Linked DNA regions of Homo sapiens. The protein of the gene in region 1 interacts with the protein of each later gene in a pairwise test. Each region holds a gene or a part of one and is shown on either strand. Other genes may lie near its edges.

Region 1 (4,392 bases):
CAGTTCCATTGTCAGCACAGCCTAGGAAGGTCAGATCCTGTATTAATTACTCTTAGTGGAGATGCCAGATATCCCATACAGAATTAGCAGAGAAAATACACACAGGCTTCTATTCAAATTTTCTTTAGTGCTTAAAATTAAGTTTTAAAATGAAATCAGACACTGCAGGTTTGTATATAAAATGAAAAGCTATACTACTTTTTACAAAAGGGCAAACTGGGCTGATGTAAATGTTTTACTTTCAACTGTGTTCTTTAAAATAAATCCTACCTGGTTTTTAAATTTTATTTTTCATGAAAATGCTCCTTTCTCTACATTTATTCATCCTATATACATCAGGCTGTAAGACCCCCCCCAGTCATCATTAATACAATGTGTTGGGATTCTGTGACTGGAAAAGGTGACAAGTTGGTGACTTTGACACTGCAGGTATTCCATTTTCATGGTTTACTATGAAAAGTCATTTTTCATATTATGTAATATATTGTTAGATTAAAACCATTGTATTAAGACTTTAAAATGTAAGCATTGTAATTCTGAAAATACACATTTTAAGAAGAAACTATTTTGCACTGGATCTTTTGCTGCGACATGGTGTGACAACAGTATGTAATGTGAAGATTTTATTGTTTTATCTCCCTAGTCCTTGTTCCTGACTCTTGGGCATAGATTATTTGCCTTTTGGGAAACATTCGGATTATTTTTTTTTTTTTTTTTTTTTTTTTCTCTGAGACAGTCATGCTCTGTTGCCTAGGCTGGAGTGCAATGGCGCGATCTGGGCTCACTGCAGCCTCCGCCTCCCAGGTTCAAGCCATTCTCCTGCCTCAGCCTCCCGAGTAGCTGGGACTACAGGCATGCGCCTCATTTTTATACTTTAGTAGAGATGATGTTTCACCATGTTGGCCAGGCTAGTCTCGAACTGCTGACCTCAGGTCATCCACCCGCCTCAGTCTCCCAGGCGTGAGCCACCGCACCGGCCAGCATTCGGGACTTTATTCATAATTCCTTACCCAACAGTTCACAAGAACGAAGACATTTGGGTGTGCAGCGCTCTCATGTTGTGGACGCTGCTGTGCCAGGCTGGGCGTCCGTGCGGAGCGCGCCCAGCGCTGGAGCGCGCCTAAGAGGCGCCCTGCAGTGTGGCTCCGGGGTGTGGGCGGGGCCCGGAGAAGGCCCCCGCCTTGGGAGGGGTTGGGCCTCGCGTTCAAACTCCGCCTCGGGGCGGGGCGAGGGCGACGCAGCTCCTCCTGCCTCCTGGGCCGCTGCGGACGGTGGTGCGCGACCCCGTCCCGGGCGCGCGCGCTGTGGGCGGTGCACGCCGTCGCTTCCCGGAAGTGCGTGCTGTGGGCGGTGCCGCGCGGACCCCCGGGAAGTGTCTCTGTGGGCGGCCGCCGGGTTGAGCTGCGGCACACGTGCGACGGCCGTGATGAAGTTCGCTTACCGGGTGAGCGCGGGCGGCGGGCGGTCTGTTGGATCGGCGCGGCTCTTCCGGTGGACGGCGCCTGAGCTGGCTCCGGGCGGGCTGGGGGCGCGTGGTCTGCTTTTGCGGCGTCTGGCCGCGTGGGGGTCGCCGGCTGTCTGCGCGCCCGTGGCCTCGGGGACGCGGGGCTGTGGTGGGGCTCCTGGGAGAGCTGGGACGGAGGCGCCGACGGCTTCTCGGAGGGAACAGGGACATTTGTCGGGGTCCCGGGATATTTTTAACCTGAGTATGGCCCAACCTAAAGGCTGGAGTTGGTGCAGTCGGGGAGGGCACAGCACCCTCGGGAGGGATGAGGAGGTGGGACGGGGCGGGGACGCGGGCGCGCGCAGGCGGGGTGAGAACAGCAGGGACCCGGGGCCCGGGACTGGTCCCTAACGAGCGAGCGTCCAGGTGAGCGGAAGGGCGGGGAACCCAGGTGTGAGCTCTGTTTCCCGAGGCCGGAGGGAATTCCTGAGGCGGACGCCCTCAGCTTTGAGAGCCAGGGAAGACTTGTCCCAGATGTGAAGTGCAGGAGGCGGGTGAGACAGGTAATAAGAGGGGGCCGTGGAGCCGGCCTGGGGGTCTCTGAAGCGTTTGCTACAGCTGGCCGGTTATGGGGACGCCTGTGTTTCCCACAGTGGCCCTGACCGTTGCGCTTCCAGGGTTGCACGGGCCGCCTGCTGCTGAGCCCACCGTGTACTACACTTGTCCTGTCCGAAACTGGGCATGGTACTGGCCCCTCAGAGTGCTGCTCCTGTGTCCCCTGTGCTGGTGGAGCCACCGCTGTGTGCCCAGCACCAAACCAGAAACCATATCCACGTCCTCACAGGCCAGGACTTCATCCGCTCCACATTCCTACTGCAAGGTGGCAAAAAATGTGCCTTGGAGCCTGCCTGGCCGCTTAAAGTCCTTCTGCTGACCAAGCTCCTCCCTGAGGTCCTGAGGGCGCTGCCCACTCACAGCTTCAGGGCCTGGCTGGTGCCTTCCCATTTAGATTCCAGCTCAGGTGACCCTTCCAGGTGCCTCTCCGTGACCACCGTCTAAAGTAGCCCCTGCTCCCACACTTCTCATCCCCCTCCTGCTAGAGAGAGAATATAAGGTGTGCGTGTCTGTGCGCATGGCAGTCTCCAGTGAACGCTCGTGCTCGTGAGTTAGTAAATAGGATGCTGGCTTACCACACTTCTGGAAGCCCTGAGTTCTAAGCACTTTTGGGGTGCTGTTCCATTGTTGCAGCTTTTTTCTTGGTGAAGTGTGGGCTCCATGCCCCTCTTCACCTGGCAGACGCCTCCTGTCTTGGGAGGCTTCCTCAGTGCTCACAGGGGCATCTTACCCATCTCTGTGGGAGCTTGGGGCCGCCCGGGCTCCTCTGGTCTCCTGAGGATCAGGCTCACTTCTTCCTCTCTTACCCAGGAAAGGTGAACGGGCCCCCAAGGTGGGGTTCTCTATGCCATCTCTCTGCCCAGATGCCTCACTTAGTGCTTTTCTGGGAGTCGACTGTTTTCTTTGTGTTAAGACAATTTTGTTTTCTTCACAGTTTTCAAATTTGCTGGGTACGGTGTACCGGCGTGGGAACCTAAATTTTACCTGCGATGGAAATTCAGTTATCAGTCCCGTGGGCAATAGAGTCACTGTATTTGACCTTAAAAAGTAAGTATGTGAAAGTGGTATTCATAATAGTGATACTGATTACTATTATCACCATTTTTTAAGTAACATATGAAAACTGATAGTGTCTTCTGTGCCTTCCTTTTAATGGTGCACCCGTTAATTAAGGGAGCCCAGGACAGGACTACAGGACAGACTAGGGTCAGCAGATCAGTTGTGGAAATTGGCAGCCAGACCCAGTTCTTCGTTGTAGTGCCTTAGCCAGGCCCCATAAAGTGGTGTGTCACTTGGCTCCGTTCTGTGGGAAGGGACCCTGTCCCTGTGCTGTGAAGGGTGGGTGGGGGAAAAGGTGTAGCTCAGGGTTAGCCCTTCCCCCATCAGGGAAGGCCCCTAAGGGCTGAAAGGCCAGGGCTGCTGGGGGAGTTGAAGGTACCTTGGACCCCTGCTCGGGAGCCCTGCTGCCACTGGGCCTCACCAGTCGGACGGGCAGGCCCAAAGCTTCCAGCTCTGCAGCCGGAGGTCAGTTTTATTCGCTGGGGTTTAGCGGTTTCTTCCTGTGTGCTGTTGCACTTTGCTTCACTTTGTTGCACTCTGGCTCTGTGCGGATGCTGTTTTACCACGAAGCGAAGGTGTGTGGAAACACTGCTTGGAGAAAGTTGGTCGGTGCCATTTTTCCAGCAGTGGGGGCTCACTTCATGTCTCTGTGTCACATTTTGGTAATTTTGTGATATTTCAAAGTTTATTATACCTGTGAGGGTGATTTGTGATCATCTTTGCTGTTGCTATCGTGATTGTTCTGGGGTGCCGTGATCCGTGCCCATGTAAGACAGCGAGCTTAATCGGTAAGCACTGTGTGTGCTGTGCCTGCTCCACCGACCGGCTGTTCCCCACCCCCCCACGTCTCTCTTCCTCTACTTGGGTCTCCCTATTCCCTGACACAAACAATGCTGAAATTAGGCCAGTTAATAATGGCCTACAGTGGCCACTACGTGTTCATGTGAAAGGAAGAGTCACACAACTCTCACCTGAAATCAGAAGCTAGAAGGGACTCAGCTTAGTGAGGAAGGCATGTCAAAAGCTGAAATAGGCCAAAAGCCAGGTCTCTGCCACCAAACAGGCAAGTTGTGAATGCAAAGAAAAAGCTTTTGAAGGAAATTAAAAGTGCTACTCCAGTGAACACACAAATTACAAGAAAGCCAAAATAGCCTTATTGCAGATACGGATAAAAGTTTGAGTGATCCAGATAGAAGATCAAACCAGCCACAACATTCCTTTAAGCAAGTCAAAGCCTAATGCACAGCAAGGCCCTACCTGTCCTCTGTTCTGTG
Region 2 (3,686 bases), on another chromosome or scaffold:
TGAGATAACAGGCATGAGCCACCATGCCCAGCAGAAAAGTAGTAAATCTCGTAAGTGATTATTACCTAAAAAAACTAAAGTAATAATTAAAAACAACTTATTCTTGTCCAGTTCAAAGTTCTTGGAACAATGTACTTGCAAGTGTAGGAGTCTCAGTAATAAAAGAAAAGCTTAATGTAGAACGTTTATATGAACATGTGTTATGCTTTCTTCAGTTTCTGGAACATTCAAATTCAGTGTTTCTACAGCCAGTTAGTCTACAAACCATTGCAGCAGCACCATCAAACCAGAGTCTGCCACCTTTGCCCAGCAATCATCCAGGTACATGGGACCTTATTATTCGCATCAAATAAGGAAACTTATGAGAATATATGAGTCTGCCAGAGATTCATTGGTAACTGAAAATAGGAGAAATTAGAGATGCTCTTTTGTATTTTTAAGCTAATGAAACAAATTCAGGGCAGATACCATTATGACTGACTTATAAGAGACTGTAAAAATGCTTGTGTTAAACTGAGTATTGTGTTTTGAATGCTAAGGTAAATGAATCTTTAGTTGAGGTTTGGAAACCTTTTTGATACATACAGATTTGTTGAACTTGGGAGTAGCATTGGGACACCAGTCTGTTTTGGTTGTGTTTATTAGGATCTAATATTTGAAGTCTAAATTATAAAAAGAATATCAATTGCGTGTACTCCTCAAAAAGCACAATATGTTTACTGGTCTCTTTTTTTGCCCAAAGCGATGACAAAAAGTGATCTCCAGCCACCTAATTACTACGAGGTAATGGAGTTTGATCCCTTAGCTCCTGCTGTCACTACAGAGTAAGTCATTTACAAAATGATTAATTTATTTTTTGTCTTGGTTCCCTTTGATAGCAGAGCTAACAGGGCTTGGTTATACATTTAACTTTGTTTAGGTCTTGGCAGAAATTGATGGCCTTATTAAAAATGCCTTATGAGGTTTTATGGCAGCTGTTACTCTTAATGGTCTTATCGTTCCGGCCTTGTGACTAAAAAATAAAAATGCTGGGGTTGCATGTTAAGAAATAACTGGAACTAACCTGCTTAATGGACTCCTCATAGATCCCTTGGCAGAAAGTCATGTTCTCTTTAGCTTGAGAAGGGTACTAGTCACTGATTGGTGACATAAGTTTATGCCACATTGATGGAATATTTTAGCTGCTCTTTATGAACTGATCCAAAAAAATCTTATATTAGAACTTGTTTTTAGTCTTCTAAAGCATTAGTACAATTACTTTTTACTTAAAATCCTTAAAGCAACATTCTTTTATGATTTCATATTGGTCAAGATATATAAATATTAATGGAATGGTAAGGTCATAAGAACTTTAATATACTTTGAGTGACTGAAGGTTACCCCCAAATTGTTAAAAATTATTAAAGCACGTTTATTGGAAATCATTGTTCAGAAACTGACAGCCTACAGGCTCTATCTTGCTTGCAGTTGTTTGTTTTTGACCTGTGCAGAATTTAAAATGTGCATTTAAAAAATTAATTGCTGGTTTGGGAAACTCTCAACCATGTTTTTCCTCAGCTCTCACTCTAATATAACAATGAATGCAGAGACTTCTGTGGCCCCCAAATATGTGAGGATTTCTCCCCATCAGCAGGCAAGCAATGAATTCTACAATGGACACCAGCTGGGTGTCCTCTGATTCAATTCCAACACCATCTACCTGGAGATAGTGTCAGACCCCACAGGTTGAGAGCTCAGTCCCCACCACCCCGACACCTACCTTCCCAGACACCAGTCACAAGCCTGGGCCTCTAAACTTAGGACTGACTGGCTTCAAGTTGGGGTTCCCATGACTGCTTCTTTGGGTTTGATTAGTTTGCTGGAGCAGCTCACAGAACTCAGGGAAATACTTATATTTACTGGTTTATTATAAAGGACATTGCAAAGGATGCAGATGAAGAGATGCACAGGGCGAGGCATGCGGAAAAGGCCATGGAGTTTCCGTGCCCTCCCTGGAGTCCCACCCTCCAGGTACCTCCACGTGTTCAGCTATCCAGAAACTGACCTGACCCAACCCCAACCCAGTCCTCTAGGGTTTTTAATGGAAGCTTCTTGATGTCAGCATTCCTTCCCCCAGGGTATAGGGCAGGACCCTCTCTAGGGAGGCTCTTATGACCCACAGTGACAAAGGTGGGCGATTAGAGTGGTGCCTTGGGGCAGGTGAAAGGAGGACTAGAGAAGGTCGAGAGATTCTGCTTCCAGAGGCTGGCTCCTAAGGCCTGACACACCCAACATTATAACAAAAGACTGTAACAAGGGCTATGGGAGTTGTGAGCCAGGAACCTTAGACAAAAACCAGTATGTATCATAAGACCACAGTTGCCAACAGCTGAAAACTCGGATATTTGAAAATAAAAATTCTGGACTTCTAGATCATTTAGATACTCTGTCAACACGAAGCCTGAATTTTTACGTGCTAGCTATGGGCTGGGGTTGAGTAGTAGCTATCTCCTTTACACAGGTAGGCTCTGCAGCCCCTCAGGTCCTGTTACCACCCAAAAAACCCAGGGTTCATTCACCTGGATAGTAACAGATATCTGACTCTCCACAAGGACACAGGTTTTGATCAATAGGAATTTTATTACTTAGCACAAGTAAATTCTTTAGGGGCCAGGATCAGAAAGCGTTCTTCTGTAACTTCTTCATGTTGACCAGGGACACTGTATCCAGAGATGTTAGAGGAGTGAAAATCTCTAGGCACTAAAACTAAATATGTTTTAGGGTCTCCCAGGATAGGTTGCAAAGGCACCTACAGTTGAAATTTTTCTAATCTGGAAGATACAAATTTTACGAAGAGGTTAAAGATGCAGGGACCAAACAACAGTAGTAAGAGCAATAAAATTAGTGGCCTCATTAGGGGAAGAAACCAAGTAACACTTGGTATTGCTAATTTGAGAACTTCTCAAACAGAATTAGAAGTATGGCTATTAGGCCTGATGTGGTGGCTCACCCCTGTAATCCCAGCACTTTGCGAGGCCAAGGCGCGCAGATCACCCTGAATTCAAGATCAGCCTGGGCAACATGGTGAAACCCCGTCTCTACTAAAAATACAAAAATTAGGCAGGTGTGGTGGTGCGCACCTGTAGTCCCAGCTACTCAGGAAGGTGAGGCAGAAAAATCGCTAGAACCCAGGAGGTAGAGGTTGCAGTGAGCCCAGATCGTGCCCCACTGCATTCCAACCTGGGCAACAGAGCGAGACTGTCTCAAAAAAAAAAAAAAAAAAAAAATATGGCTGCTGATTAAAAGTGTGGAACCAAGAGGCTTGGGCATGGACCTTCCTAATGTTAACTTCCTATTTCCCCTGAGGTATTTATTCAGGTACAGCAAGAGGAATTAATAACTGCACACTCTCCTCCTCCCTGTTCTGCTAAGAGGCAGTCTAATGCTATACAATTATCTAGTACCGCATTAGCCAAGGAGTCATATGAGGCCCCAAGTCTGGAACTTCCCCAGGAACTAGGGCCAGCATGGCAGTGCCATGGGCTCAGAACACCTCTATTCTGTCCTGATTTAGAGAAATTGTGGCTCCAAACTTAGTCAGAAGGTCCCTTCCCAAAAGGAGAATGGGATGTTTGGGGAACAGAAGAAAGAATGAGTGAAAGTTTTAGATACTATTTCATGGACCAGAGGCTCCAAGAATCTTTTAT

What was found. The genes of interacting proteins can lie anywhere in the genome.
Region 2: the proteins of PWP2 (region 1) and TOM1L1 interact in a two-hybrid assay, tested with the Homo sapiens proteins (one large-scale study listed by BioGRID and IntAct).

Annotation. Positions count from the first base shown.
Region 1 is NC_000021.9:44,105,991-44,110,382, forward strand, and holds the start of PWP2 (periodic tryptophan protein 2 homolog), read left to right. Parts: upstream 1-1,408; 5' UTR 1,409-1,426; coding exon 1,427-1,444; intron 1,445-2,993; coding exon 2,994-3,106; intron 3,107-4,392. UniProt on the Homo sapiens protein: Part of the small subunit (SSU) processome, first precursor of the small eukaryotic ribosomal subunit.
Region 2 is NC_000017.11:54,949,303-54,952,988, forward strand, and holds part of TOM1L1 (TOM1-like protein 1), read left to right. Parts: intron 1-215; coding exon 216-321; intron 322-742; coding exon 743-824; intron 825-2,599; exon of another isoform or gene 2,600-3,686. UniProt on the Homo sapiens protein: Probable adapter protein involved in signaling pathways. Interacts with the SH2 and SH3 domains of various signaling proteins when it is phosphorylated. May promote FYN activation, possibly by disrupting intramolecular SH3-dependent interactions.